7 linked regions of the Homo sapiens genome follow. The protein of the gene in region 1 purifies or fractionates together with the protein of each later gene. This does not show direct contact. Each region holds a gene or a part of one and is shown on either strand. Other genes may lie near its edges. The genes, in order: EZR, TBC1D10A, LCP1, ACAA2, AKR1B1, ENO2 and PPA2.

Region 1 (4,492 bases):
TCCAGGTGGCCCTGTTCTGTTTTGTAGGACTTTGTGTTTTATGCCCCACGTCTGAGAATCAACAAGCGGATCCTGCAGCTCTGCATGGGCAACCATGAGTTGTATATGCGCCGCAGGAAGCCTGACACCATCGAGGTGCAGCAGATGAAGGCCCAGGCCCGGGAGGAGAAGCATCAGAAGCAGCTGGAGCGGTGAGCGCGTGAGGCCAGAGTGGGGGGGGCCTGTGTTCTCCCAACTCAGCCACTGGCAGCCAGTGCCTGTCAGGTGACTGTGGAGCTGATGGGGAGAGTGTGGTGGAATGGAACCCAGTCACCACGCTGGGATCTTCGAGGCCTTTGTCTCTGGGCGGTTGCTGTGGTGCTGAGCCTGTTGTCAGCCCTGGAGCGGCTGCTCCGTCAGGCAGCTCAGGCTGGCAGCAGGCTAGGGTGGCCCTCAGGATACCAAGTCCATCCTGGAGCTTCAAGTACCCGTGAAGTGTGTTGACCCCTCACTTTCCTGCCAGAGTCTAAATCTCCCTGTGCCTCTTTTTCCCTGCACCAGGCAACAGCTGGAAACAGAGAAGAAAAGGAGAGAAACCGTGGAGAGAGAGAAAGAGCAGATGATGCGCGAGAAGGAGGAGTTGATGCTGCGGCTGCAGGACTATGAGGAGAAGACAAAGAAGGCAGAGAGAGGTCAGGCGCCCTGGGGCTGGCACTCTACACTGGGTCATGCATTTCCACAGAGTAGCAGGGGCCACACCCACCCACCCACTCACCAGGAAGGAAACCAAGAACGTGTCCCACAGCGCAGACTCACAGCCGAAATGATAAAATGGTTATTTGGTTTGGAAAACAGTTCTGTACTTATTTAACTTTGATGCTAGTTGTTCTAAGACTTTGTATTTTAAAATTTCCCTAGTCTTTTGCGGTAAGTGCTCAATCACCCAGTTTCCCCGATGAGGACAGTAAGGTTTGGTGCGGTACAGTGATTTGCCCACAGTCCCCCAGCCCATGACTGACAGGGCCATGCTGCACTGCCCTCGACCTCTAGACTAAAACCCAAAGGCGTGTTCAGAGCCAGACTTCCCAGCACAGCTCCAGTCAACAACCCCAGCAGCTGGGCCGATTACACAAGGCGCCACAGATGCTGTATTCACTGGCAGCCCTTACAGCACACATGGGAAGGGTGTTCTGTGTTCTGAGTGGAGTGTGGACCACCAGCACAGCGGGCGGCTGACCTGGGGAGAGTAGCGCCAAGAGGGTTGAGTCAGGCATGCCAGAGAGAGGGCGCCTGGCTGGCGTTGGACGGGTTTCTAGCCATCTTGAGGAAGTTGTCATGGATACAGCAGCAATGAGCTCTGTGAAGTGCTTTCCTCCAGGGTCACTGGAAGACATCCCCTCAACCTGTGACTTGGTCTAGGGCTCTGTGGCTTTGGGGGTGGGAATGGAAAGCGAGGGCTCCTAGGTCCCTGGGCTGAGGGTTTGAATGGCTCTGGCTTTGTGTCTTTGCAGAGCTCTCGGAGCAGATTCAGAGGGCCCTGCAGCTGGAGGAGGAGAGGAAGCGGGCACAGGAGGAGGCCGAGCGCCTAGAGGCTGACCGTATGGCTGCACTGCGGGCTAAGGAGGAGCTGGAGAGACAGGCGGTGGATCAGATAAAGAGCCAGGAGCAGCTGGTAGGAATGGCCTGAGTTTCAAGATGCTGAATTATAGAGAGGCTGCTTCTGAGGATGGAAAATGTGACACCTGCCTTGTAATAATTGTCATGACTGGAAGCTGTAAACTGATCTGCTGGGGGGCTGAAGGCAGCTGGTGGGGAAGGGGCTGGGCTGTTGCCAGGGTCACCCATTGAAGGTGGGTGTGGGCATCCAGGAAGAGATGCCGGGGGTGCACAATGGACCCTGCTGGCCATGGAGTGGGGGTGGCGGGGACTCAGGTGTCACGTTGGAGACTGCTTGCCAACACACATGAACACTCATTCACAACTGGACTCCGTTGAAAGGATATCAGAACTGACGTGAGCTTGGCATTCCCTTCCCAGGCTGCGGAGCTTGCAGAATACACTGCCAAGATTGCCCTCCTGGAAGAGGCGCGGAGGCGCAAGGAGGATGAAGTTGAAGAGTGGCAGCACAGGGTGAGTCTGCACGGGGGACACCTCCGCACGGCCACAGCACCTGTTGCCCAATTGCCTGCGGTGGGGCCCTTCTGCAGGTGGGTGGGTTGGGGGAGAGGTCTGGCTCAAGCTGCCACATCCCACTGGAAGCTTCTGGGATGTCTCATGATCCTCTGCCAATACCAGCTGTACTACTGAAGTAGACATCCCCAAAGAGATGGGTTTGACTTTGTACACGAGTCAGTGCAGCTGCTGGATTCATAGAGGGAGGACCTCTGATTGACTTTCACCCACTTTGCTCCCTCCACCCCGAACTGTTCAGTGCTGATCTGACAGCCCCCGGTCAGGAACTGGTTTTAAATCTAATTATATATGTGCCCCTTGCAATGGGGTCGCAGTGCCTGAAACACGACCTCCTGCAGCTAGTATATACAGCGGGCACCATGGAAAGATCCAGCTCCTTGGACGTCTCCAGGCTGGAGTGAGAGCTGGGCTCTGCTGCTCATCAGCTATTTGGGGGCTAGTAGCATCACTTCTTCAAGCCTCATTTTCCTCATTGTAGAATGGGGGCAATACCCAACTCATAAGGTTGCTCTGCAGATGCGAGGTCCCATGCCCAGGACCTAGCACAGAGGTTTAGTCAGCTGTAGCTCTCATTGTGGGACGCACACAGAGCTTGTCGCTCCGTCTGGGATCCCCTGTGCCCTCCAGGAAGGCACAGCCCCTGAGAAGCTCTGGGGATGGTTCCCACTGGAGACTGCACACCAGGCTTTAAGCAGCTCCTCTCCTTCACAGACCCGCTGGCCCGTCCTTCCCCCACTGTGGCTTCTCCATCTGTGGAGGTGCCTTCTGGGGACGTGTCTCCCGGCTCTCCAGGGCTGCTGCTGCCTAGTACCTCCTTGCCTCTGTTCCAGCCCCCATTCCCGCTGCCGATCTGTATTAGGCTGTTCTCACAACGGCTATAAAGAACAAGCTGAGACTGGGTAGTTAAAGAAAAGAGGTTTAATTGACTCACAGTCCCACATGGCTGGGGGAGGCCTCAGGAAATTTACAATCGTGGCAGAAGGCGAAGGGGAAGCAGGCACCTCTTACATGAGGGCAGAAGAGAGAAAAGCAAAGGGGGGTAATGCCAAACACTGAAACCATCAGCTCTTGCTCAGAACCCACCCACTAGCACGAGAACAGCATAGGGGAAACCACCCCGTAATCCAGTCACCTCCCACCAGGTAATGCCCCCCACCCCCAGCATGGGGGGATTACAGGTGGAGATGAGATTTGGGTGGGGACACAGCCATATCACCATCCCAAGTTGCAAGCGGAAGACTTTGGTTCTTAGGTTTTTGGAGAAAGTACCTGTTAAGTGAGGAGAGCTGGCTACAAAGCAGATCCACACTAAGCTCAACTCTAGGGCTGGCTGGGATGGAGGCGGGCGGGACTGGGTGTGTGTGAAGCTGTTGGAAGGACTGCAAGTGGCGAGCAGGAGAGCACTTGATAATGACTGTGGCATGAAGGGAGGCTAGGAACAGAGCCCGTTACTCATGCTAACAGGATTTTTTTTCTAAAAATTATATAATGTCTAGAGTTACAGGTAAAAAAAGAAATGGTAGTTTTAAAACTGCCCAGGTTCCGGCATCACAGTTCCTCTTCCTGTCTTGGACGCAGAGGGTTGTAAACCCCCCATGCACCCTGAGGGTGCTCCTCTTCGAAGCCACAGCCCAGCACAGTTCAGTGCTGCCTTAGCCTGCCAGGACAGAGGGAGGTGACAGTCTGTTCTCATAGCCAGGAGGATAGGACTTCTGGGTGAGAAGTCCTCTTATTAATTTGCTTTCCAAAGGCCAAAGAAGCCCAGGATGACCTGGTGAAGACCAAGGAGGAGCTGCACCTGGTGATGACAGCACCCCCGCCCCCACCACCCCCCGTGTACGAGCCGGTGAGCTACCATGTCCAGGAGAGCTTGCAGGATGAGGGCGCAGAGCCCACGGGCTACAGCGCGGAGCTGTCTAGTGAGGGCATCCGGGATGACCGCAATGAGGAGAAGCGCATCACTGAGGCAGAGAAGAACGAGCGTGTGCAGCGGCAGCTGCTGGTGAGGCCCAAGGGGCTCTGTCTCCAGGGAGCCTGCCTCGCTTTTGGAGCAGACAGGCTTGGGGAGGGCAGTGATGTGAGCCAGCCCCACCCAGCACCCCTCTTGCCCTTCCTGTTTTCCTAGGGGACGGGCCGGGCCATATGGGGAGGAAGGGACTAGACCAATGCTGCTTAATGTTACAGACGCTGAGCAGCGAGCTGTCCCAGGCCCGAGATGAGAATAAGAGGACCCACAATGACATCATCCACAACGAGAACATGAGGCAAGGCCGGGACAAGTACAAGACGCTGCGGCAGATCCGGCAGGGCAACACCAAGC
Region 2 (4,492 bases), on another chromosome or scaffold:
TGTTTATATCGAGGTGGGCAAGAGAAGGTACTGTGTGCTCCCTCCTCACACAAGCGCCAGAATCTGGCTGGCTGTGTGATCTTGGACATGTTGCTTCACTTCTCTGAGCCTCAGTTTCTCACCTGCAGAATGGTTATGATAACACTGACTTTGCAGGATCATTCTGAGGTTTAAATGAACTAATAATACAGGGTAGGTGCTCAGTGAATGTTCTTCTCCCTCTTAAAGACTGGAGCAGCTCGTGGTTCTATCTTTTCATTTTCTACTTCCCATCTTTGGCTATAATGATGAGTGTCAGTGAGGCCCAGCCCCTGTCGGCAGGAATGAACCCTAACCCATGGTGAATCCTTACTTCCCCTGAGAGGGGTGATTATCCCCATTCTGTGGATGAGCGTACTGAAGACCGAGGAAAAAGTGCCCAAGGTTTGCCAGCTGGTAAATGGCAGAACTGGGACTAGAACCTGTTTCTTGACACTGCATCCAGTAGTGACTACACCTTGCTAAGGTGGCAGCAGGCAGGGTGCCAGGTGCTTACTGTCCCTAAGTCCCTAAGGTCCCTGAGGTCCCCACACCCAGGGCAGGAGTTAGCAGGAATCTGGCTACCTCCCCCTTCCAGTATGGAGGGCAGAGCAGGTCTCAGTACAGGGAAAGGTCATGGCCATCAAGCAGGAGAAAGGCACAGGGAGGAAAATCCTTGGAGAGGTCCTGGAAGCATGGCCAGATCAGGCCTGATTTAGTCCTCCCATAGGCCAGAGTCCGGATTGCATTGGTCTTGACCCCAACATGCTGCATAATGGCCATTTGACTTTGATATCTAGTCTGTGCCTTTTGGAAGAAGTGTTACTTTGTAGATGAGGCAGGGATTATGTTGCTTGTACCGGTGAGGAATCTGAAGGTTGGAGAACTCTTGCTGTTAGTGAACTGTGGAGCCAGACCGGAGAGGGATCCCAGGTCCTCCGACTGTCACCCAGTGCTCCTCTAGCTACATAGCACTGACCATTCTCTTCCCCTTTCTCTTCCTCAGTCGAGGTAATTGAGCCTACAGGCTCAGGATGCATTGCCGACTAGAGCAGAGCCCTGCCATCATCCATCCGTTGTCCTAGCTGATCACTTTATCCTGCAGACAGTACACTTGAGGGGTAGGAGGCCTCCTTTAACTGATTAGTCTGCCCCTGGTAAATCTATTGCCGCAATCCTGGGCCCAGAGACCCTCTCCAGCAGGGAGAACACTGTACTGGCCACCCCACTGGCAAGTCAATGCTCCTGATACTTAACCAGCTTAGAAGCCCCCACCTAGGATTTCAGGGCAGCTGCCAACTTTGGCTTTCTCTGTCTCATCCTTCCATTTCCCGTCTCTCCTCCCCCTACCCTACCCTACTCCATTCTGTGCCCTGTCCAGGTCTTCAGAGGCTGCCATAGCTTAGCACTCAACACCTCTTCAGGTAGAGAAATACTCAGCAGACCCAGCAGCCTGGGAGAGCAAACCAAGGCTTACTTTTGCCAGCTTATCCATCTTAGCAGTGAGCTTATTTACCACACATTTATTGAGCACCTACTCTGTCAGACCCTGTGATTTGGACAAGAGATATAGAACTGAACAAGATGTCTGTGTTTTATTGCCCTCAAGGCACTCACAGACTTGCTGAAAAATAGAACCACAGACAAATCTTTCCAGTGTTGAGTGATGAAGGCTGTCATTGAGGCATGCAGTTGCTCTGGGAGTACAGAGGAAAAAGCAGCCAGCCCCACCTGCAGGAGCCTAGAAAGTAGTAGCATTTGATCCAGGCTTCAGAAGAGGCAAAGCAGGGCAGTCCATTGGATGAGAGGGGGCCCATGTGCAAAGTCCCTCCCAAAAGCAGTCGTTTGAGCATGTGTGGCAAGAGCAGAGATGACAAGAAGAACGGGAGGCAGTAGGATGATACGACAAGAAGAACGGGAGGCAGTAGAATGATACGAAGCAAGGGTAGGTTAGGGAAATGGGTTGGGCAGTCTCAGTCTAGCCTTGAATGTCAGGCTGAGGCCTCTTGTGTTGCATAAAAGTTAGTCCAGGAAATGGGTTGGGCGGTCTGAGTCCAGCCTTGAATGTCAGGCTGAGGCCTCCTGTGTTGCATAAAAGTTAGTCCAGGTCTGGCATGGAAGACGGCATAAAGAGGAGCTGGATTGCAGGCAGTGAGACCTGTTGGGAGAATCAAGGATGGCCTAAAAGGGCTGTGGTGAGACCTGGAAGAGGTCTGGAGCAGTGAGGATAAAGAGGCTGGCAAATCATTAGTGCTTGGTTCATGACTGCCATGTGGGCTGATGGAGAGGTAGGAAGGCTCTGGACTAGCTGAAGTGGCTTTGGCCTCTTACAGAGTCCATTCTGGAGCCCTCTGGCTACAGGGAAGCAAGGCCAGCTGTGGCCTTCCTCTGAAGAGGGCAGTGGGCTGCTGTGACTCTGCGTTGTCACAGCTCTGGGCTCCCCAAGGTGCCTGGTATGGCTGGCTTGCCCCGGGCACATCAAGGGGTTCTTTGTCTCCTTCCAGCAGGAGAGTGGGTTGGCTGACCTGGTTGGGGAAGGAATAGGATAAGCGGTGTTGAGCTTCCTGGTCTCTGCCTGGCAGACATATTGGATGATAAGGAAGGATGCAAGGAGAACCAGAAGAGAGGACTGGGGCCTGAGGACATGGAAAACCTACCTTAGGGTGGTATGGCAACTGGGAAGGGTGGGTTTGGGCCTTTGGACACAGCATACACTGATCAAGGGGAGGCACTTGGCAACTGGAGGCTTGTTTGACCTCACCTAGCACCTTTATTCTGTTCTTAGAGGTGGTGCCTTGGCTGGGACAAAACCTGTGAGAAGGCAAACCCCTCAGCACTTACAAGGGGCACCACCAGTGGCATCCGGAGATGAGAGATTCTGGCTGGAAATGTGGATTTTAGGCTAGTGTTTGAGAAAGGGCTCTGAACCAGGCACAGGGTCAGAGTGTCAGTGATGGCTCCACCACTGACCTTTGTAATATGTGACTTAGGCACATCCCTCACCCAACCATGGGGCTAATGCTTCCAGTTTTTTTCACCCAGCACTTACTATATGTGTAGCCCTGTGCTAGGCTCAGGATATAGACCTGATCTTGCCCTCACAGGGAAATCAGACATTAAACAAGTAGTTTCAACCAGTCTGGTCAACATAGTGAGACCCTGTCTCTAAAAAATAAATTAGCTGGGCATGGTGGCACGTGCCGGTAGTCCTAGCTACTACAGAGGCTGAGGCTGAGCCTGGGAGTTTGAGGCTGCAGTGAGCTGTGATTGTGCCACTGCACTCCAGCCTGGGTGACAGAGCGAGACCCCATTTCTAAAAAAAATTTTAAAAAGAGAAAGAAGTTACCAGGTGTGGTTGTATACAAAGGATTGTGAGGATCAAATGAGATAATTGGATTAGGAGCATAGTGTAAACAAATACTGCTGAACGGAGATCTGGAGACCTTAACCCTATGCCTTACTGAGCCACTAACTAGCTGTGTGACCTTGAGAAAGTTGCTTAATCTTGGTTTTGTTTTGTTTTGTTTTGTTTTTTTGAGATGGAGTTTTGCTCTTTTGCGCAGGCTGGAGTGAAATGGCACAATTGATCTTGGCTCACTGCAACCTCTGCCTTCCGGTTCAAGCGATTCTCATGCCTCAGCCTCCCGAGTAGCTGGGGTTTTAGGTGCCCACCACCATGCCCGGCTAATTTTTGCATTTTTAGTAGAGACAGGGTTTTGCCATGTTGGCCAGGTTGGTCTCAAACTCCTGACCTCAGGTGATCCACCCACCTTGGCCTTCCAAAATGCTGGGATTACAGGCATGAGCCACCATGCCGGTCAAAAGTTGCTTAATCTTTTTAACCTCGGTTTTCCCCACATAAAAACTACGCAGTTTGTATGTGTGTGTGTATGTGTGTTTGTTTTTAAGAGACAGGGTCTGGCTCTGTCACCCAGGCTGGAATGCAGTGGTGCAATCACAGCTCACTGCAGCCTCAACCTCCCAGGCACAAGCGATCTTCCCACCTCAGCCTCCTGAGTAGCTGGGATTACAGGCTGAAGCCACCATGCCTGGCTACTTTTTTTACTTTTTGTAGAGACAGAGTCTCACTATGTTGCCCAGGCTGGTTTCAAACTCCTGGGCACAAGCGATCCTCCCTCCTCAGCCTCCCAAAGTGCTTACGTTATAGGCATGAGCCACTGTGCCAGCCAACTAAGGCAGCTTTAGTGGGATGGTGTTGAAGACAGCTACATCTGACATCCTGAGACTGACCGTGGAGTATATGAAAAGTGTTTTGAAGCCTGAGTAACATAGGGAGACCCCATCTCTACATCCCATAATTTAAAAATTAGCTGGGCATAGTGGTGCGCACCTGTTGTCCCAGCTACTTGGGAGGCTGAGGTAGGAGGATCACTTGAGCCTGGGAAATCAAGGCTACAGTGAGCCATTATTGCACTACTGCACTCCAGCCTGGGCAATGGAGACCCTATCTCAA
Region 3 (4,492 bases), on another chromosome or scaffold:
GAACCTGTGAGAAAGAATATTGATCTTCAAATAATGACCTCAGCTAAATTTAAACCTTCTAGCTGAGCAAAAAAATACTTACTCATCTGGGAAAACGTAGAGGAGAGTTGATTACATTGTTGAGTTGCTATAATTAGGCAGGTAAGCACTTGAAATATAAAACACCTATGGGAATAGACAAGAGAACATTGTTATTATTACAAAATTGATCTCTTAAAAGCAAAAATGTTGTCATATTGTGAAATGTGGTTTGACAGACCCAGCAAAACATCCGAGCCAGTAGCCTTGGTTATTTTTATGGCTCTGCCCAAATGTTCTTAAACATAGCGTTGAGATTCACTGTGCTTTGTTTTCTCCATCTGGAAAATGGAGATAATAAATAAGCTCACAATGGCTTACGCCTCTTTTTAGGGAATAATAATAAAATATTTAATCCATGGGAAAGGCTACAAGAACCTTTACCCCAAAGAGGTAACGTTGTTATCTTTAGCTTTTTAGCAGAGCTTAATGAAAGTTATAACCAACCCCCCTCCCCCAACATCGCTGCATTTATTTTTCTGTGGTTTTTGTGCTTCTTCAGCTCTGATTGCTCTTTTGAGAGAAGGTGAGAGCCTGGAGGATTTGATGAAACTCTCCCCTGAAGAGCTCTTGCTGAGGTGGGCTAATTACCACCTGGAAAATGCAGGCTGCAACAAAATTGGCAACTTCAGTACTGACATCAAGGTAGGAGGAGCGTTGTTTGAACATGACTCTCTGCAGGAGTGAAGGGGAATTTGGGCAATAATAAAGAAAAGATAAAGATTTGGGGCTTCCTCTCTTCAGAAGTTCCAGGGTAGTCTGGTGCTGTTTTGGAGGTGCTCACTGTCCTTGAGAGCCCATCTGCTGCTCTAGTCCTGGGCCATACACAGACCTGCCCAGAGTCCTAGTGCAGTGTCTCGATTGGAGTTTCCATATCAGGAAGTAGAGGGACAAAGGTGAGCTAGAGGAAGAGCAAGAGAACAGTCTGCTGTCCAAGTAAAGGGAATATATGTAGGTCTGTAATGTCTCTGGTTTCATAAATGGGAGCAGCAGATGGGAATTCCCTGTAAAAAATTAAATGAAGATGACTCTTCTAGTTATACTAATAACAGCAAACATGGTGTCTGCAACATGCCAGGCACTGTTCTAACTGATTTATATGTGTATTCTCTTATTGAATCCTTACAACAACCCCATGAGGTAAGGGTTATTATCCTCTCATTTTACAGATAAAGAGACAAAGAGGTCCATAGGGGAAAGGCTGAGGCAGGAATACACTGTGGTTTTCAAGTATATGAAAAGTTCCCTGTCAAGGTGAAAGAAAACAGCTATTGGCAATGATGACAGATGGATGAAGATAGAAAGTGGTTAAGGAGCAGAAAGGAATGGAAAGCGGTCCCTAGAAGGAAAGAGTAGGAGATGCTGGGATGCAACACCAGGAAAATACTTCAGTCTCCACTTTCTCAAACATTAAATAACTTTTCCCCAAAGAGAAAGAGTCAGAGGAAAGTTCACATGACTCAACAGGAGTACACCTAGGCTTGTAATTCTTTGAGTAACAGTTTCCCACTGCTATATGACGTGCATTCAGTGGCATTTAGAACTCAGCGTGTGTCAGGCACTGTGCCAGTCAGAGTCAAGCTTCTAGATGGAAAGCCCCCATTTTTTAGGATCTAAGCTAAATCCATCTTTCTAACTATGCATCTTTCATGGGCTATTAACATTCTTCTAGCACCACCAACCGACCTGGGTTTTAACAGGAGCTGGCTGTCATGCTCTCCCTTTGTGCTCAACAGTTAAGCTCTGCAATTGCAAAACTTTTCAGACAAAATTAGGCTGTCAGATCTCAGCTGTAAATTTACCTAATTTCCTGTCATTAAATGGCTGTGTTCTCTAGAACCACCATTTTGTGCTTTGGGAAGTGTCTGTATGAGATAGGAGCTGGCCAGATGAGCACTTACTTATACAGTGTTGTGCCTGTTCTCTGGCAGCCGCTGCATGGCAACTGACTCCGTGCTGTCATGTGTATGTCTGAGTAGCCAGCCAGCAACCTTGGGAGATGTCTTTAAATCGTGTAAATTGGCAAAGGCGAGGAGAACACCCAGGCTAGAGTGAGTGAGAAGGTTCATGAGAGTCAGGTGAAATGAGGTTACTCTTAGCCAAACTAAAAAGATGTAACCCAGGGCAGGCAGATGGTATTGGTGCCTGACACCTGCATGTGACTTTCACTGACTTCAAAATAGCTACAGTGAAAAGTCAGAGAAGGGAGGGTAGATAGAAGGGAGATGAAGATCATTTTCCCCAGGTGCAACATCAATGATTCACACTCTCTGGTTCTCCTCTTTCTAATGCCAAAAGTGGTGAGCATACCTCTCCTCTGCCCAGGCCTTACCTACCCTAACCAGTTGTAGAAACAAAATAATAGCTGATTTTTCGATCTTTATGAGAAATTGAGATGCTATTAAATGATTTAAATAAACTACCTGAAAATCTGTATGCTTTCATTGACTAAGAATAAATTTATATTTTAAGACTATAATTCTGAGAATTCTTTTTGTCAATAAGCATATTTTCAGAATCTAAGAAAACTTGAGAATTCAATACCTGTATCTAATCTGCTATAACTAAATTGAACCATTTTTCTAGCTTCTAGATAAATATGAAATGCACTTTTCTTAATATTTCTCCTTTTACGTAAAGATTGCTTGTTAATGCTTCAATCTTCTGTCTTTGACATCTTTTTCTCTTGCTGATTGTCCATTTAAATGTATTTTAAACTCGCTTTAAACTTGTGCTTCCTTTTTCTGTCACTTTTTTTTAATTAAACCTTAGCTGACTGACTTCTACAGCAATATAAAGGTATATATATATTTTCCTGTATACAATTTAATTCATGTAAATAAGTTGTTTTTCTCCCCTAAAGACAACAGAATAATATCCACTTCTTTAGGGTGCCTTTTGTGTATATCTTGTCTATTTTATTGTTACGCTCCTTTTAAAAAGAAAAGCAAATGTGATATGTAAAGAGACAAATAGAACATTCAAATTAGTGAATGTTTCTAGCTTTGTTAAGTTACATTCTGGAATGATAGCTGAATATGAAATAAAATGTTTGCTTTTGGGAAATCATTGTTATGCTAAGTATGTAATTAGCTGTGCTATTTTGAAATTGGAATTTCTTAATTTCTCACAGGACTCAAAAGCTTATTACCACCTGCTTGAGCAGGTGGCTCCAAAAGGAGATGAAGAAGGTGTTCCTGCTGTTGTTATTGACATGTCAGGACTGCGGGTAAGGCCAGGTCCCAGTTGTGTTTGGAGAATATGATGCTATTTTCATGTTGGCAGTTCCATTACCTTGTGTGGCCCTGATTCTGGAGTTCCATGACTGGGCATTTCTGCCTAAAGCCCTGTTAAAACGGTAAAACTGTGAGCAGTTTGGGATAATAATTGATGAAAACTGAATCTGGAAATACAACATTAAAGAAAGAAACCAATAGTAATTAAACACCATCCAGCATGCTAGGCAATTCTATATATGTTCATCATTTAGTAGACTCTATAACCCCACATGGGTCTGAATGTTATAATAAAACTTCTGTTTTGCCGCCACTTTAATACTGATCTTGAGAAGTCTCTTTGCCCGTTTCTGTGCCTCATTTAATATCACTGGAGTTAAATCCAATGAGTTCATGTTGAAGTCAACTGATTCCTAATGAGAAGTAGAGTAAAAGTAAATGACAAGTAAAGCTCATGAAATGCATAATGTGTAGCGTTATCTAGTAAAGGGTCATATTAAGAAATCATCCTAATTTAAAGTTTTGTTTTCTGAAAATTGGTGGTTTCATGTACTTTAAGGACAGTGGGCCATATTTCAGCAAAATTTTAGGGTTAAGAGTCACTTACAAATGGCTAGAGATTCTCTAGAATTATTTGAGCACATTGAGTGGTTCAAAATCTGAAGTCTGCAAAAATAAAATTGATATTATATATTTATCAATAATAATACATAGGTTAACTGATAAAATTTATTTTATTTGGGTTGCAAGTATACCAACTCAATGTGGAGACAGTGGTTATGCTAATCATATGTTCTTACTGGCAAGTGTAAATATCTTTTGTGAACTGGTTATGGGAATATAAATTAATAAATAAAATTTTTGATAGACAATCTCATGTCATCTGTGCACACAAATAATAAAAAGGAATCTTAATGGTTGGAAATAATTAAGATAAACTCAAATGATCAGTTTTCAGAATCTACTGCATCTCTTTTGAAACAGAGCAACCAACCACTCATCTGAAATAGTTTGATAAAGGAGATGAGAGATCCTTGTTACTTAACCTCTGAGATTCCTTTTACTTGTGACTTTCTGATTTTGGTGCAGGTGCATATAGGCAATAATGTGCTGTTATTAAGTGTCTGCCTGAGATAAACACTAATGATTTCAGTGAGATTCCCATTTCTTTTCACATT
Region 4 (4,492 bases), on another chromosome or scaffold:
GATGAAAAGCGTTCTGGAGATGGGTGATGGTAATGGTTGCATCACACTATGAATACACTTAAACTACTGAGCTGTATACTTAAAAATGGTTAAAATGGTAAGTATTATATATATATATATACTTCAATATTTTTAAAAGCTAGTATGTTCATCATTCTTTCGAGTGCTTCCTACATGCTAGGCACCCTGCTAGATTTACATTCAATATCTCATTTAATCTTACAACCATCCTATGAAGCAAGAACTATTATTATTATTCCCATTTTACAGGCAAGGAAACTGATTAAAGCCATTAAGGTTACTCAGTCATAGAATTTGAACCCAGGTCTGTGAGTGTTACCTGTGAGGCACTGAATAAAGACCGTGAGGCAAGCAGGAAATCTCAAGAATTTAGGAGAGGATAAGGAAATGTATTTTATTTCAAAGGAAGTGAATGATGCTGTTAGTAGAAGTACAAACTAGTTTGACCTTTTTAAAGGACAGTTGGTTAAATACATTTGTTTCTTTGAGCACAGAGAAGAAAGTGAAATCCAATTTCATTTGTAAAAGTCTTCATTTTATTACAAACAAAATAAGAGCCAGAGGCGTATTTTAATAAAACAATTTTCACATTAATTTGTTTCTATAACGATATATCTTAAATAGTGACCTCGGTTTTCCTAGTAATAATTTTAAGAACCATCAGGTTCATAGAGGCTCATTATTTGCTCCTTTTCTGAGAAAGGCAAACAGTGGAAAGTGTTGGAAGAATGAAGTGGTTTCCTTTTTATGAGTCACCTAGATTGAACTAGTTCTTGTAAATCTCTGTTCTTGTTCAGATACATCCATTAATGGGATAAATTTTTCTTTTGCCTTTTTAAAGGGTATGTCCTTTATTATCTGCTGTACATTTATGCCAGGTATTAATATCTGTTGATTTTCAAGATTTATATTGTGTTAAGAATTACTATTCTTAGCCACATGTAGGTAGGGCCTGTTACTCAGGCAAACATGATTGAAACCTTTTAGTTTTCTCCTCCTACATCTTGGTAATGGATACTTTAGCATTTGCTTTACAGTTACTTTAAAAGCATTTCCTTTTGAGACACTGTAAGCTACAGTACAATATTTGTTTGATTTACCATTAATTTGTAAAATCAGTGTGTTTCTTAATACATTGTTTGGGTACGGTAAAAGGAGTTTTTATTACTGTTTGTTTTTAAATAGGAAATTTGTGTTAAAGAAGCTGAAGTTGTTTTATGTGGAGGAACCGAAAGCATGAGCCAAGCTCCCTACTGTGTCAGAAATGTGCGTTTTGGAACCAAGCTTGGATCAGATATCAAGGTTGGAACCATAAAAATTTAAAAGAATTAGTTCTTATTAGCATTATATAAGTACTTTTAATAACATACCTTTTTATGGGAGAGAAAACTAATTTTGAAGCCAATTTCGTTGATGAGGATTGGCAAGATATGAATGATTAGAAGTTTGTAAACTATTTCAAAACTCTATTTTGGTGGTTAGTTTTGACATTTTAACCCATATGAAATTAGATTCTATCTATCTCAGCAGACCTCTAGTAGTATAATTATCCTGTGTAAGTGGCCATAGGCATGGGAGAGATGGAGGAAGGGAAGAAGTGGATTAAAAAGATAGACAAAAGAGTGAATTAATCTCACTACTAAACAATTAGTAATCTGAGTAATTAAATCTTTAACGTGACTTATAGAAGTTTTATTTCTGGGACAGTCTCAGAATAGATTTCTTCATCATCACAGAAAACATCTTTGAATACAGATTATATTGTCCCAAATCAAACAAAAACTGATTCTTTTATCTTTGAGAGCTACAACTTGAGAATGATGGTACAGTACTGATAAAGAATGATGTTTTCTTCTCATTCCCATGTGAAAGGGCTACTGACATTTTATATTTTTTAGCATTTTCTATAGTAATGTTTGACTCACACTGTTCACCCAGTTTCTCACCTGGCCTTTTTGGAAGTTGAAAGGAATGGGACTTAAGAGAATCTATGCGGATTTTAGCCACCAAACACATTTGAGATATCTTTTATGAAGACAGGTCAGTGAGTTAAATGTTGATGAGGCAGCAAAGTGGGGCACACTTACCAGAGACTAACTACTTGAATAATAATTAACAACCTTTCTGTAACTCTGGGAACCTGTCCCAAGATCTTTTCAGCCTCATAGTAACCGATAGAACCAGCTATTCCTGTCACTGAGGCGCAGGATGAAAAAGAAAAACAGATAATACTGTTTATTACAGAGCTCAGGGCTGGTTTACAAAGATGGCTATAAGAAAACATTGCATGAAGACTCATTGTCAGGTTTTCTACAAAATATGACCTTGAGGATTTAATTTTTGATCGTAGGGTAACTTCTGTGATCTCACCATGCACGTCTAGTCCTGTTAGCTGTTCTTAGACCCCCACATTTAGAGAGGGACAGAGAATGTGTGCATTTTATTTTGTGACATTGAATGTTTTCAAAAACATTGCATGTTTTTAAAAAATATCCCATAACTGAATATGAATAGTGGTTATCAGAAAGTCTTAATTTTACTTTTGTTTATTGGAAGTGTTGATTATTTAAAGAAATTATAACATATTACTTTTAAAAGGAAATGCCTTAACAAGTCACTTTATTAATGTCTTTTAATAGCTGGAAGATTCTTTATGGGTATCATTAACAGATCAGCATGTCCAGCTCCCCATGGCAATGACTGCAGAGAATCTTGCTGTAAAACACAAAATAAGCAGAGAAGAATGTGACAAATATGCCCTGCAGTCACAGCAGAGATGGAAAGCTGGTGAGTGAAACTGGAAAGTATCAGTATCTATAGAATAAATATCTATAGGAAATATTTTCATCATTTCTATTATGGTTATATAATATTTACAAATCATACCTTTAAGAATTATTACATCTTTTCATTATTCCTTTGTCTTTAGATGATCAGATATTTTATTAATTATTGCAAAATTAACTAGGAATTTCTCTTTTGAAAAAGTTAGTACTACTTAAAAAGTGGTATTGCTACTTGACCCTAGATGGACCCTTGAGTTTTGTGCTGAACTGGTCCTGTTGTCAGTAGAACATGATGAGGAATACGATACGTTCTGTCAGAGGTGATAGCTCACTGTGGCAACTGGAATATAGAGGATGTCCTCTCCCACAAGCCATATCATAATCATAAGAAGGGGTAATGTATTTGGAAAAGACCCACTGGGTCTTTTATGCTTTCCTTCTGCCACTCCTAATTAAGAATCATTGTACCTAACTCAGAGACTTAGAACTAGTCCGAGACTCTAGTTAGAGTGCCCTGGTGTAGCACAGCAGGTTGCTATAGAGCCGGTCCAAAACAGGCAAATGTGACAGCAGTTCTTTTAGCAGTGCAGCAAGTTGAAGAAATGTGATATTTAAAAAATTAAACTGTTAAAGCAAGTGGAAACTCTTATTTAGGAATATTAAATGCTTGAAGTAATGAGGATAAAGTCCATCTTAGCATTTCAGAAGGATAAGTGGAATAGAGCTGATGCCATCTAACTCGTGTGTTTTTTTACTTATATGTTCATAGTGGAAGAGGATTGGTCTAGAAGTCAAGAGTTATCAGTTCTGTTTCTACTTCTACCACGCACAAGTTATCAAGCTCAGTCATATCATTTATTCACTGAACCTCTGTAAGATAGAGATAACAATATTTGCCTTCCCTATTTATCTAATAAGGTTGTTTTAAAACCAAATAAGGGCATATAAGGAAAGTATTTTGCCAATTGTAAAGTGATATGAAAATTAAGGTTAGTATTATTCCTGACCCTATTTCCAAAGCTATAGATTACTACAGTACATTCTAGTCAGTGGAGGTCAAAGTAGGTAAGATGTTTTACTTATAATTGTATTAGTGATTGCTCCCATAATTTCTTCAGGTTGCCTATCACTATTAAGTTTCAGTTAGATTACTTTGTGGCATAGACAACTTGGTAACTTTTTAATTGCTTATCTCACCAAAAGAAGTTTAAAAGGGGTATTAAGTCCATTTATTGCCATTACATCTATAGCAAACAGACAGATGCTGCTAACAGTCTTAGCAGTACCTGGTGAAAAAAAATTGTGGTTAAAAAAATATAATTTTTAAAAATATAATTTTTAAAAGATGCAAAATGCATCTACATAAACACATGACAGTATCGTAAATCCTCCAATACGGAAGGTAAGTTGTGTAAGTAAATAGTAAAGACTCTATAATTTTTAAAAGATGCAAAATGCAACTACATAAACACATGATGGTATCGTAAATCCTCCAATACGGAAGGTAAGTTGTGTAAGTAAATAGTAAAGACTCAGGCTGAGCGTGGTGGCTCATATCTGTAATCCCAGCACTTTGGGAGGTCAAGGAGGGTGGATCACGAGGTGGTGAGTTCGAGGCTAGCATGGCCAACATGGAGAAACCCCATCTCTACTAAAAATATAAAAAAAATTAGCCGGGCATGGTG
Region 5 (4,492 bases), on another chromosome or scaffold:
AGAATTGTACGGTGGGGGCAGCGGGGAATGGTGGGTCAAAGTAATGGTATAAGGATGGACTTGGAATCAACTTCCTTTTTTTTTTTAATGACTTAAAACCTTTCCCTGGGGCCGGGCGCGGTGGCTCACACCTGTAACCCCAGCACTTTGGGAGGCAGAGGCGGGCAGATCATGAGGTCAGAAGATAGAGACCGTCCTGGCTAACATGGTGAAACCCCGTCTCTACTAAAAATACAAAAAATTAGCCCGGCATCGTGGCACGCACCTGTAGTCCCAGCTACTTGGGAGGCTGAGGCAGGAAAATCGCTTGAACCCCAGATGTGGAGGTTGCAGTGAGCCGAGGTCCCGCCACTGCACTCCAGCCTGGGCGATGGAGCAAGACTCCATCTAAAAAAACAACCAAACAAAAAAACCTTTCCCTTGTATGTGTGTATGTATTCTTTCACAGATGCTCGACAGAAGATGTGATCCTTTGCCTGTCTTTGTGACAGCTGGAGGAGGCCCTGCAGGCAGGTGCAGTTCCTTATTCTCCTGGGTCTTCCCATGCCGTAGCGGCTGTGTTGTACCTTTCAGACCCTCAGCAGGGCTCTGGTAGTCTCTACTCTTGAAGGTCCTCAAACTCCATTCTCTTCTCAGGTGAGGGTTTCAGGCAGATGGGGAGACCATCTCTGCCCCAGACCCATGTGGCTTGGACAGGGTTTCTTTCTGGCAGTCTTGCCTTCTACATTGGATAGTAAACAATTACACCTGTAATCCCAGCACTTTGGAAGGCCAAGGCGGGTGGATCACCTGAGGTCAGGAGTTCGAGACCAGCTGGCCAACATGGTGAAACCCCCTCTCTACTAAAAATACAAAAATTAGCCCGGCATGGTGGTGGGTGCCTGTAATCCCAGCTGCTTGGGAGGCTGAGGCAGGAGAATCACTTGAATCCAGAAGGTAGAGGTTGCCATGATCTGAGATTGTGCCACTGCACTCCAGCCTAGGCGACAAGAGCAAAAAAAAACTCGGTCTCAGAAACAACAACAACAACAAAAACCCATCACAGCATTGTAAAGCCAGGAAGCTTTTAAAACAGAGATGATGTCTGGTGCCCACCAGTGTCTTGTTACTGATAGTGTTTTTAATCTAGTTGAAAAATTGTTGGAGGTAAAAGTCATTGTAAGTCTCCTATGTATGCTCACAGAATACTCCTAGGGCTGAAGGTACAACTATGTTTCTCCATCTTTTGCCATGATCACTACCTCCCTCCCACCTAGGAGCCTTGTGAGACTTTTTTTTCCCCTAATTTGCCCCAAAATAAAATTGTAATATCAGAGATAATATTGTACTTCTGCTTATGGCCAGTAGCCTTCTAGAGGGTCACAAGCTGTTCTATAAGCTGAGGGGGGTTTTTTTGCCCCAGAGAACTAATTTTTGTCTCTTTGGGGACAATAGCACCCACTTTAAGAATGCATGAGGTAAAAGAAAATGTGCCAGGAAAGACTTGCTCCACCTTCCCCAAGTGGGGTAAGCTTGTGATGGCCCAAGATCCTTGGATGGGGTGAGGGTTGAGGCGCTGTGGGCATGGAGGTAACACAGGAGCCAGATTTACTGTTCACTTCCCTGGTGTCTCTAAAGCCCCCATCTCTTCCTCTTCAAGACCAAAGACATTTAAATAAGCCCTGCCCCTACAGGGTCAGTCCTGGTCCATGCACATCTCAACTAGTTGGAAACAGCAGTGTCTTAGAATTTGGGACAAATTGATTAAAACAGAACAGGAGGAAGTTAATTTCTGCTGCCAAACCTGATTCTGAGTGATCGTTTCCTGTTCCTTGCTCCAGGATTATCAGCACAGCATTCTCATGCTTCCTACTCAGGACCGTTTCTTTACCCAAAGTGAAGTTTCCTTTGCCCCCTCCCCTTATCCTTTGATTTCAGTAGTAACACCTGCTAACTAGAGAACATTTCAAAAATGAAGAGTTCCCTGTTCCCAGAGATCCCCGTGGTTAATATTGCAAAATATCCAATCTCTGAGATACTTTGGTTTTACCATAAACACTGTCCTGTGACCGTCTTCCTGTTTAGCACTGTGGCTTGCTTTTTGACTTGCAGAGGGAAGAGAGGGAGGGGTATCTTGAAGTAACTAGCAAGACCTGTAAGCAAAAGGGAAGAAGACTAGGTTTTAAAAGGAGTGTTGTATCTGTGTAGGAGGGAGACACTGATTTTAGTTATCAGTGTCTCAGAGTTGGTATTAGCCAGCCGGTGTTATCAAAGGAGGAACTAGGACCGCTGTCTTGAAGGAGGTGGTGGAGGACTCAAGGGCAGAGGCTTCTCACTGCCATCACTTGGTGCCATCAGCCCAGAGCATTTCAAGTCACTGCCCAACGTAGAGCTTTGCAGAGCCAGAAGTTCTGGGAGGAATGGGCATGCATGGTTTTGCCCATCAAGGGCACACAGATTAGTGGCAGGATCGGGTTAGAAACATGTAGGATTTGTATGATTGAGCTGTAATTGGAGTGTTTCATATACTGCATTTCTACAGCTCTCATCAGTAATGGCTGTGCCTGGATGCCACCCAGCATGTTTTCATAGTTTACCTTCTTTTTAGAAGTCAATCTGGACCCCTCCTTCTGTTTGCATTTTCTCTTTGTTGACATGGAATGGGGAGATGTTGTCATCCTGTGTTGGCATTCCCAAGTTTAGTGAATGGTTTCTCACCATAGCTTAAGTTGGCTGCTTCATTTTTCATAAGGCAAATTAGTTTCTCTCAGGGAAGGGCTGTACATTGAGATCATTAACATAGAATGTGGTTGTGGATCCTCGTACATTTTCATTGCAGAGGTGACTTTTTCCCTCCAGCACCTTTGATCAGCCTCCCAGCACACATGTCTCCAGCGAATGGCACATATCCAAGGAATGATCAGCAGCTTCTTCGTGACCTCTTGCAGTCATTGCTGTCTTTTACTTTTCTAGAAAAACCTCTCACAACTTTTTTTTCATGTCGTGCCAACGCAAGCTTGATTATCCTAGTCTGTGCTCTTTTGGTTCCAAAGAACTGAAAAACCACTTTAATCTTAAGCAGGAAAAAAAAAAGTGTGTTTGGGGTGGGGATTGATTGACTTCCCCAAACAACAGCCGCTGACATTAGGTGTTTGAGATTCAGGGTTGTAAATGTTGTCACCAGGATTTGGCCTCCCTCCACTTTCCTGCAGCAGCTCCAGGCTGACATTCTCCCAGCTCAGTGACCCCAGCAGAACCGGGGCTGGACTCAGGGGTTCCAATTCAAGTGCAAAGATTGAGTCTTATGGCCTGGATTGAGTCATGTTCCTGTCCCCGCACCAGTTGCATGGCAGGCAGTGCGTGGCTAGGCTGAGCCTGCGGAGTGTGCCCTCAGCAGCTCCTCAGAGAAAAATCAATCAAGGCGCCATCAAGCCTGGAGAAAGTTCAGTGTGTCCTGGGCAGTTTCCTGCCTGGGCCCCAGTTGTTCTTTCTGGGGTAGGGATGTCCTCTGCTCTCCCTGCTGTCATCAGTGGTGGTTGTGCCCGGACACCACTCAGGGCCTGTGGTAAGGCATTCTTTCTGGAAATTGAGATTCTCTGTTCCTTCAACCGTGCAGAGTGGGGAAGGCTGCAAGAGCAGCTTCTGAGGTCCTCCAGTCAAATAAGAGGTCGCCAGGTCCTCTGAGGGTCGTCCCCTCTTAACCCACACCTTCGATGAGCATCCCCACCCTGCCTCGCTGCTCCCTCTGAGGTGGAGAGTGAGCTCCATGCTAACAGGCTCTGGTAACGGGCTTGTTCAACTGGGCCCCTTTCTTCCCCAAAGCCTGTTGAAAATAGCTGATGTCAAAACACAGATGTCTGCAGCTGCTATGGCCCTGGGGGGTTTTTCTTTTCATTTGTTTCTACCCCAGCTCTCCAAAGGAATGTGCTCTGTTCATTCAACAGCCCGCTGCACATGTTTATTGCTCAGCTCTGTGATCATAGCAGGATAGTGAAAGTTGGGGGATACGTGTCCATGCAGCCTACCTGGGTGCCAGTGAAGCGCGATGCCATGTAGGCACTTCCTCCTCCTCTTCAGTAGCCAGGCTCCCCACAGCTGTTCTGGTTACTCAGATGGTCAGGTGGCTTGGCCATGGACACCCATTCAGTCATTTTGCCAGGTCAGCCACTAACCATTTGGTGATCTTCCATGATCCACATTCCCCCTCGTTTCCCTTTAACTTATTTCTCTCTGCTGATACCTCTGAGGGGCCATCTCCCGTGTCTCCACCCCTTGAAGCAGATCCTCATACAGTGAGAATTGACACATGGGCCTTTGAATAAACATCAGTGATGTGCTTAACTTCATGATAATCTCCCAGAACCGCTTGAAAACAAGCGACTGCCGGTATCAGAAGCCATGCATGAAAAGAGAGCGTAAGGGGCAGGCATTCACTGGCTGAACTGGGGAGCCACATGGGAATTGGGGTCCATAGGACATCTATTTTTGAAATATTTTGAGATATTTGAAGGAA
Region 6 (4,301 bases), on another chromosome or scaffold:
TTAACTACACCTGCTCATCCTTGCTAAGACAAATCCCCCCAGTGTAAGCCTGCCCTAACTGATTCTTAACTTTTTTTTTTTTTTTGACAGAGCCTCATTCTGTCATCCAGGCTGGAGTGCAGTGGCACAATCTCAGCTCACTGCAACCTCCACCTCCCCAATCAAGTGATCCTGCCACCTCAGCCTCCTGAGTAGCAGGGACTTTAGGTGTGTGGCACCACACTCAGCTAATTTTTAAAATTTTTGTAGAGATGAGGTCTCACTGTATTGCCAGGCCAGTCTCGAACTCCTGGATTCAAGCAGTCCTCCTGCCTCGGCTTCCCAAAGTAATGGGATTACAGGCATGAGCCACCACGCCTGGCTCCTGATTCTTATTTCATAAAACCTTACATGGAGAGGCCAGGCACAGTGGCTCATGCCTGTAATCCCAGCACTTTGGGATACTGAGGTGAACGGATCACTTGAGGATAGGAGTTCCCTGGCTAACATAGTAAAACCCCATCTCTACTAAAAATACAAAAATTAGCCAGGCATGGTGGTGCACGCCTGTAATCCCAGCTACTTGGGAGGCTAAGAGAATCGTGCAGTGAGCAGAGATCTCACGCCACTTCCATAGGCTGGGCACAGTGGCTCATGCCTGTAATCCCAGCACTTTGGGAGGCCGAGGCATGCAGATCACTTGAGCCCAGTAGTTTGAGACCAGCCATGAGCAACATGGCTAAACCCTGTCTCTACAAAAAAAAAAAAAAAAAAAAAAAGTTAATTAAAAGCAAACCAGCCAGGCGTGGTGGCTCACGCCTGTAATCCCAGCACTTTGGGAGACCAAGGTGGATAGATTACCTGAGGTCAGGAGTTGGAGACCAGCCTGACCAACATGGAGAAACCCCTGTCTCTACTAAAAATACAAAATTAGCCAGGCATGGTGGCACATGCCTGTAATCCCAGCTATTCGGGAGGCTGAGGCAGAAGAATCGCTTGAATCCGGGAGGTGGAGGTTGTGGTGAGCCGAGATGGCGCCATTGCACTCCAGCCTGGGCAAGAAGAGTCAAACTCTGTCTCAAAAAAAAAAAACAAAACAAAAAAAACAACCCCACCCCCCCCCCAAAAAAAATCTTCCAGTAACAAGGGTTCACAACCTAGCTTTGCATTTTCCTGTTCTCACTGCCAGCAAGCCCTTCCTCATTGCTAATCCAAATCCTTAATTCTGCAATTATGTTGATTTTCTTTCGCTCTGTGTCAGGAAGATGGCGACCAACTGCCTCCATCCTGAGATAAAGGCCCTGGGCAGACTTGCAGAAGCTAATTCAGTCCCCCTCAGCCTTCTTTCTACTCACACATCAGTCCCAGCTCCATTCAGCATCCACAATTTCATCAATCAAAGATACTGAAATGTTCTAGTTCTCTGCTAGATCCAGTCACACTCATATCATCCCTGGTTCCTTCCAGAGCCTTCCCCATGACCCCAGTAGTTTTCAGAACCCATGACTTTAATCAGGATCTGAGACAGAACAGATTGGTCACGGGTACCTGCATTTTTACACTACATACAAAGCCCAGTCTTTGCAGGTGGCTCCTGCACCCTCTCCCTGGTTCTCAGGTTCTTCTTAGGACACCCCCACCTGGTGCCTGAGTCAGCACCCCATAAGGTCCAGAGTTGCTGGGACACGTCCCTGCCTGCCCCCAGACCTCCCCCTCACACCACTTCCTCTCACCAGGATAGTCCCTGACAAAGTCCTGGTAGAGTGCCCCCAGCTGGTCCCCAGTGATGTATCGGGAAGGATCAGTGGGAGACTTGAAGTCCAAGTCATATTTGCCATCACGATAAAACTCTGAGGCAGCAACATCCATGCCAATAACGATCTTTTCCGTGTAGCCAGCCTTGTCGATGGCTTCCTTCACCAGCTCCAAGGCTGGGGACAGAATACAGTGAGATTATAGTACAAGCAGGAGGGATGGGCAAGGAGGAGGAGGGAAAGAAAAGACATTCAGGGCAGAGGTGGAGGGCTGTTCCTGAGGGAAGTGTGGCGGGGATGCTGTTGGGGTTATCCCCAGGTCTGGGAGGAGAGGCCATCTTCTAGGAACACAGAGGAATGGAATTCTCTTAATAATACTTACTATACTTTCATTGGTATCATGTCATCTAAGCATTTTATATATATTTCATTTAAGCCTCACACTACCATGAGCTAGATTCTGTTATTATTTCCAGAGAGAAGTAAGAAAGTTCACCAGCAGTAACTCCACAAGTCAAGGTTCAAATAAATCCAGGTTATTTGGCCCCAGAACCTTAACTCTTAACCACTACCTATATTCTTTCCATTCCCTATACAGTTTCCCCCAAGGCACAGAAAAATTAGGGATTCTAGAGGCCTAGGAGGTTGGGACGGGGACAGGACAGATTTCGAATGGATGGGATGAATCCAACAGTCATCCAGACCATCTCCCAGTATTCCCAAGGGCTCCAGTGACAACTTTTTTTTTTTTTTTTTTTTTTGAGACGGAGTCTCGCTCTGTTGCCCAGGCTGGAGTGCAGTGGCATGATCTCGGCTCACCACAACCTCCGCCTCCCGGGTACAAGCGATCCTCCTGCCTCAGCCCCGCTAGTATCTGTGATTACAGGCACACGCCACCATGCCCGGCTAATTTTTGTATTTTTAGTAGAGACGGGGTTTCACCTTGTTGGCCAGGCTGGTCTCAAACTCCTGACCTCAGGTGATCCACCCGCCTCAGCCTCCCAAAGTGCTGGGATTACAGGTGTGAGCCACCGCGCCCGGCCTTCCAGTGGCAACTTAACAGATGCTAACACATCTGGCTAGGCAGGTAAAAGACTGTCCCCTGGCCAGGCGTGGTGGCTCACGCTTGTAATCCCAGCACTTTGGGAGGCCGAGGCGGGCCGATCACAAGGTCAGGAGTTCGAGACCACAGTGAAACCCTGTCTCTACTAAAAAATACAAAAAATTAGCCGGGCGTGGTGGCGGGCGCCTGTAGTCCCAGCTACTCGGGAGGCTGAGGCAGGAGAATGGCGTGAACCCGGGAGGCGGAGCTTGCAGTGAGCTGAGATCGAGCCACTGCACTCCAGCCTGGGTGACAGAGCAAGACTCCGTCTCAAAAAAAAAAAAAAATACTGTCCCCCTAGGTCTGCATGTGAATTTGGCAGGCTCTCTGCAATCCACTCTAAGAACTGGTACCTTTTGGAGTTTGCAGAGTCCTAGGACCCTCCACGCCTACTCAGGACTTGGTGAACTGTGTCACCCTTTCTGATGTCCCACAATAGGGTAAGACTTAGAGCTGGGAGTGGGGCTCCTGGCCTCACCTTCACTGTTCTCCAGGATATTGGGGGCAAAGCCACCTTCATCCCCCACATTGGTGGCATCCTTGCCGTATTTGTCCTTGATGACTCCCTTGAGTGTATGGTAGACCTCTGCACCTAGTCGCATGGCATCCCGAAAGCTCTCAGCTCCCACTGGGAGGATCATGAACTCCTGCATGGCCAGCTTGTTGCCAGCATGAGAGCCACCATTGATCACGTTGAAGGCCTGGGGAGCCACAGAAAGACAGAAGGGTCAAAGAGCCCCTCCCTGCCCGCCCCAGGAGTGTTAACCCAAGATCCCAAACTTCCCCCAGCTTTCCGGACTAAGTCTCACGTCCCCATCCTTCCTCTTTACCTCCCTCAATTCACTTTCCTCCCATCATTCCTCATGAGTTGCATGCTCCCTCCCCCACCCGCCCCTGGGAGAGCCGCAGGCTGGCTTATTGCTCACCGGCACAGGCAGGATGAGGTCTGAGTTCCCGGCCAGCTGAGCAATGTGGCGATACAGGGGCAGTTCCCGCTCAGCTGCCCCTGCCTTACACACGGCCAGAGACACACCCAGGATGGCATTGGCCCCAAACTTGGCTAGGAGATTATAGAGGAAGGTGCTGAGCACAATGTCCCCTTCTCCTTTCTAGCTCCTGCCTCCATCTGTAGTCTCCAAAAGGAGCCAGTAAAGGAGACCCCCTCCTCCCTCCCCACCCCTGCCCCAGCAACACCTCATCCATGCTCTCTTGAAAACAGCAGGGAGAGGAATGGGTGGGGAGGAGGAGATTGGAAACGGCAGAGAGCCACACCTCTTTCTAAATATCCCTGAGACCACAGACTCTCTCAGGCCATCCCCCTCCTCTGTATGCTGCAAAGAAGGTCTTCCTTCTGCCTACTGTCGGTCCTTCCCTCTGCAGCTAAACTCATCTCCCCTTGCTCTGGCTTTGAGAGGAGAATGCCCCTGACAGTCATTCCTGAGGAAGCCACTACAGCACTGGCCCTT
Region 7 (4,492 bases), on another chromosome or scaffold:
GGACATAGAATTAATTATTTCTTATCCCATCTCCTTTTCTTCCTTCTGTGATTTGCTTAGATTGCCACCAAGGAGCCAATGAATCCCATTAAACAATATGTAAAGGATGGAAAGCTACGCTATGTGGCGAATATCTTCCCTTACAAGGGTTATATATGGAATTATGGTACCCTCCCTCAGGTAACATTTTTGTTACAATGGTAAAATGTTCCTGTCTTCTGAAAAAATTGCCTTATAAATCCTGTGAACTACTGAATTTAAATTGGTTCTGAGGACATGTCATTTGGAGAGGTTTGTAAATTTGGAATTTATTAACGTGGATGGAGTTTTAGTATATCAATAAATTTTGTTTTAAACCATATATATGTCTATACTCAAGTTCTTGGAGTCAGGCATATGGAATGTTCACATTTGACATTTTGAATACATTTTTTTTTTTCTGGTCTTGCCTATTAAGTGTCAGTGAAAAACTTTTAAGCGAGGCTTTATCTACAGTCATTCCTTTGAACATGACAAGTTATGCTTTTATACACATTCATATATGATAGCACAAATTTTATATTTTAAACTTTAACAGATGAATGTGTTAAATTATTAACTTTTTCCTGGAACTCATTGTAAATTGAATTGCACAACTTATTTACTGTTATGAGTTAATAATTTTTAAGTAGAAAGCAGAGAAAACAAGAGCTAAATAATGATAAGGTAGCATTCCTGTTGGAGAATAACAACTATTTGCTTTTCTTCCTTTCTTTACCTCTTTTGGTTTTCTCTCATGTTTCCTCATTCCCAGGAAGAGGTAACTCTTCCAGATTATTTAGTGAGTAAAACTCAGAATATGCTGAATCAAAATTCTAGGTTTTGGGGACACAGAGAACCATCTGCCTTTATGTTTATAAAAACCATAGACCATCTGTCTGGAAATTTAATTTTTATATTTTTATTTATTTTAATATTTTGCATGAAATTTCAAGATGGTATTGGGGAAATATCTGAGAAGAGAGGTCTTGTTTTATCCAACATGAAAAAGCAGCTGCCCGTGTAGAATAAACATTCACAGGAAAATTTAAAAAAAAATTGTTTTCTAAAGAGTCAGGCTGTCTCTGATTCAGTTAGATCACCCACATGGATACATTCTTGGTTAAAATGGGCACTTCTAAAGTGATATGCTAAGAATGAGAATGCCTGTGGAAACCATGAAAGCAGGTTTTCTAACTCTCCAGGTACTTAAATAGGTATGCTGTTTGACCCAACAGCAAAAGGTTGAAAAAGTTCTGTAAAGCTTAGGGGATGCAGCCTGTAGGAAATGTGTGGATGAGGGTAATGCTGAAGAAGCCAATGAATTAGAGACAGACAAAAACAGAGACGTAAGTAGAGGAGCTAGAGAATAAACTAAGGTGCATGTATTTATTTCTTTAAACATTTATTAAGGATTTATGTGCTAGGCAGGATATTAGGTGTTGGGTATATAAAGACAGATGGGATATAGATGTGACATCAAGGCCTCATAATAAGTGACTGGAAAATGTGGGTTTGGGAGTGAGATTGTCACTTTCTAGTAATGTGACCTTGGGCCTTGGGAAAGATACTTTTCCTCATTTTCTTCATCTGTAAAATGGAGAACATAAAATATCTACTTCTTATCTTTGTGTTGAGATTAAATGAGTTACTGCATTTGAATAGTGTGTAACATGTAGTAATCAATTATTGTTATAATTAAGACTGGTACTTTTATTATCGTATGGTTCTTTCCCTAAAGTTGTTTTTAGTCTGATTGGGGCAATCAAGAACTAAACTGCTGGTTATGATGTGGTATAATAGGCACTACTAATTCATCTACTAATTTAAAATTATGAAAAAAATAAAAAAGCAAACCTATTGACAGGAAAGAGAGAAGGGGAGGAACGGAGGTAAAAACAAAAGAAGCTTCTGTAGTTTTCCATTTAAAGTCCTGCCAAACTTCTGTGCTCCTCTGGATGTGTCTGGATTTCCAGATGTTCTGCAGTGGTATTAATCTGGCAGGTACGGTAGTTCTTCTACTAATAAAACAGAATTAGACTGTGGTAGTCCCTTAATTCATTATTCACCCTGCATTCACCATTGCCTACCTAAGTTTCATACTCCATCCAATATCCAAATTGATATTTTTAAAACACAAATTTGCAGATGCTTTTCTTGTACAAGAACACCTTAATGGTCTCCTGTTGCTTAAAAGATAAAATACAAAATTCTTAACATTGCTACTCAACCCTGTGTGATCTGGCCTCCGCTTACTTCTCTATCCTCATTTTGCAGCATTCCCCCTTTCTCACGTCTATCCACCACAAAGTCTTCTTCAGTGTTTCTAACTTACCTCATTGTGTCCTCACCAGGCCTTCACCAAACTGTTCATTCATTCAGTACATATTTATTAAAGGCCTGTATATTTGCAAGGTGTTCTTGTAAGTACTGCAGGTAAAGCAGTGATAAAAAGTGACAGATATTTCTCTGGAGCTTTTATTTTAGTCAGATAAACAGACAATAAACAAAATAAACCCCAAGTAAAATGTCAGGTGGTGGTAAGTATGTCAAAGAAAAGTTAAGCAGGGAATGGGACTAGGGGATATTAGGATTGTTGCAATTTAGACAGGGAGACGATCTCAGTGAAAAGGTGTTATTTGAGTAAAGATCTAAAGGAAGTGAGGGAACAAGTAGTGTGGACATCTAGAGGAAGAGCAGTCCAACAAGAAACAGCAAGTATAAAGGTCCTGAGGTGGAAATAGGCCTAGCATGTGTGAGTATCAAAAAGGAAGCCAGTGTGGCTAGAATGGAAGTGAAAGAGGAAATAGACCTGCATTCTGTCTGCCATTTTCAATTAGAGATCTGTACTACTTTTTTAAACCTGACTGATCTTGGAGAGAGAGAGAGAAAAAGAGAGAGAGAGTCTGTGTGTGTGTGTGTGTGTGTGTGTGTGTGTGTGTGTGTGTGTGTGAATACACCATAAATTGCATATAAGTTAGTTATTTATCAAAGAAAATAACTAAATTGAATGATGTTTTTAAGAATGCTGAAATCATGCCAATTGCTTATGGGATAGCTTATGGAATAGCTCTACCTGATTTTTTTTTTTTTTTTTTTTCTGCTTGATGGTTGATGTTCAGACATGACCCTGTTAAAATGAAAGCCAGCCCCTGGTCCCATTTATCTTTTTAATCTCATCTCCAACTCTCCTTCTGCCTTCTGCTTCTTCACTTCCACACTGGCACTCTGGTGCTCAAAGCACACTGATGTCTCAAGCCCTCACCTTCACTGTGTCCTTTCCTGGGAACACTCCTTTCCAGGTATGCACATGGCTTCCTTAGGTTGCCTTTAACTCATCTTCTTCATAGTATCTGCCAATCATCCTTTAAAACTTTTAACCCTACTCCCATTCCCCCTCTCATACTTTATTTCCCTTTTCTATAACACCTGCCAAATTGTAACCTGCTGTATAATTTATTTATTATGTTTATTGTTAATTTCTCCCAGCTAGAATGCAGACTTCATGAGGGCAGGTATTCTGTCTCTTTTGTTCACTGATACATTCTGACTACCCAGCTTAATGCCTGCCATGGAGTAGGTGATCAATAACTGTGAAATGAATAAATTAATGCATTGTGTATGTGTGTCACATTTGTTTCATAGGCGTGTGTGGATACTTTAGCTGTTCTATGATTCGTCTTGTAACAGCAAGAAACTTGTTCAGAGCAGTTACTGAGCCAACTGTGTACTTAGAAGAACATTTAAGCAGCAGAATACTGTTTAAGTAGTAGTCTATCCACTTAGCTTGTGATTCATCAGTATACCATCATTATTCAGACCTTCAGCTGTCTAGACCGTTAGCCTGAATAGCATCTCCCGCACTCCTAATAATGCCTTCCTCAAAGTTTGAGCTTCCCTGGGCAAAAATTCATCTCGTCTTCCCACCAGTTTATTCATATTGCCCACATGTAATGGGTTATTTCAGTGTTACATCTCATTGAGTGAATATTTAGAATACCTGTCTGGAAAATATTAAAAGACTAGATTCAGTTTAAATTCAAAATTTCTTCAGTCTTAATGTAGTATTGATATGTTTATTTTGTGCTTAATTATAAATTTGGTTCATTGACCTCCCCAATCAAATATATAGTCCTACTTATTAGCTTTATAACCTGAGACAAGTGACTAAATCTCTCTAGGCCTGTTTGTTTATCTGTATGATCATACTACCTACCCTACAAGGTTATTGTGAGTATTGAATGAGTTGATCAGAGGTGTTTGGCCCCATAGTGAGTTCTTAATAATATTAACTCAATGATGATGATTGCTACTGATGTTAGCTACTAGTAGTAAAAACACTGGTAGAGGCTTTTGCTCCAAATTAAAGCTGGGAAAGCATAGGTGATGGCTCATCCCTGTAATTCCAGTTCTTTGGGAGCCCAAGACAAGAGGATCAGTTGAGGCCAGGAGTTTAAGGTTGCAGTGAGCTATG

What was found.
Region 2: the proteins of EZR (region 1) and TBC1D10A purify together in Homo sapiens (pull-down; one study listed by IntAct). This does not show direct contact.
Region 3: the proteins of EZR (region 1) and LCP1 fractionate together in Homo sapiens (co-fractionation; one large-scale study listed by BioGRID). This does not show direct contact.
Region 4: the proteins of EZR (region 1) and ACAA2 fractionate together in Homo sapiens (co-fractionation; one large-scale study listed by BioGRID). This does not show direct contact.
Region 5: the proteins of EZR (region 1) and AKR1B1 fractionate together in Homo sapiens (co-fractionation; one large-scale study listed by BioGRID). This does not show direct contact.
Region 6: the proteins of EZR (region 1) and ENO2 purify together in Homo sapiens (affinity purification with mass spectrometry; 2 studies listed by BioGRID, with this or other methods). This does not show direct contact.
Region 7: the proteins of EZR (region 1) and PPA2 fractionate together in Homo sapiens (co-fractionation; one large-scale study listed by BioGRID). This does not show direct contact.

What each region holds. Positions count from the first base shown.
Region 1 is NC_000006.12:158,766,943-158,771,434, reverse strand, and holds part of EZR (ezrin), read left to right. Parts: intron 1-27; coding exon 28-191; intron 192-540; coding exon 541-671; intron 672-1,490; coding exon 1,491-1,651; intron 1,652-2,016; coding exon 2,017-2,109; intron 2,110-3,922; coding exon 3,923-4,174; intron 4,175-4,356; coding exon 4,357-4,492. UniProt on the Homo sapiens protein: Probably involved in connections of major cytoskeletal structures to the plasma membrane. In epithelial cells, required for the formation of microvilli and membrane ruffles on the apical pole. Along with PLEKHG6, required for normal macropinocytosis.
Region 2 is NC_000022.11:30,316,473-30,320,964, reverse strand, and holds part of TBC1D10A (TBC1 domain family member 10A), read left to right. Parts: intron 1-4,492.
Region 3 is NC_000013.11:46,147,167-46,151,658, reverse strand, and holds part of LCP1 (plastin-2), read left to right. Parts: intron 1-580; coding exon 581-723; intron 724-2,850; coding exon of another isoform or gene 2,851-3,042; exon of another isoform or gene 3,043-3,144; intron 3,145-3,211; coding exon 3,212-3,307; intron 3,308-4,492.
Region 4 is NC_000018.10:49,792,596-49,797,087, reverse strand, and holds part of ACAA2 (3-ketoacyl-CoA thiolase, mitochondrial), read left to right. Parts: intron 1-1,206; coding exon 1,207-1,323; intron 1,324-2,660; coding exon 2,661-2,808; intron 2,809-4,492. UniProt on the Homo sapiens protein: In the production of energy from fats, this is one of the enzymes that catalyzes the last step of the mitochondrial beta-oxidation pathway, an aerobic process breaking down fatty acids into acetyl-CoA.
Region 5 is NC_000007.14:134,452,116-134,456,607, reverse strand, and holds part of AKR1B1 (aldo-keto reductase family 1 member B1), read left to right. Parts: intron 1-4,492. UniProt on the Homo sapiens protein: Catalyzes the NADPH-dependent reduction of a wide variety of carbonyl-containing compounds to their corresponding alcohols.
Region 6 is NC_000012.12:6,917,175-6,921,475, reverse strand, and holds part of ENO2 (gamma-enolase), read right to left. Parts: intron 3,896-4,301; coding exon 3,762-3,895; intron 3,537-3,761; coding exon 3,314-3,536; intron 1,911-3,313; coding exon 1,713-1,910; intron 1-1,712. UniProt on the Homo sapiens protein: Has neurotrophic and neuroprotective properties on a broad spectrum of central nervous system (CNS) neurons. Binds, in a calcium-dependent manner, to cultured neocortical neurons and promotes cell survival.
Region 7 is NC_000004.12:105,442,071-105,446,562, reverse strand, and holds part of PPA2 (inorganic pyrophosphatase 2, mitochondrial isoform 1 precursor), read left to right. Parts: intron 1-60; coding exon 61-180; intron 181-4,492.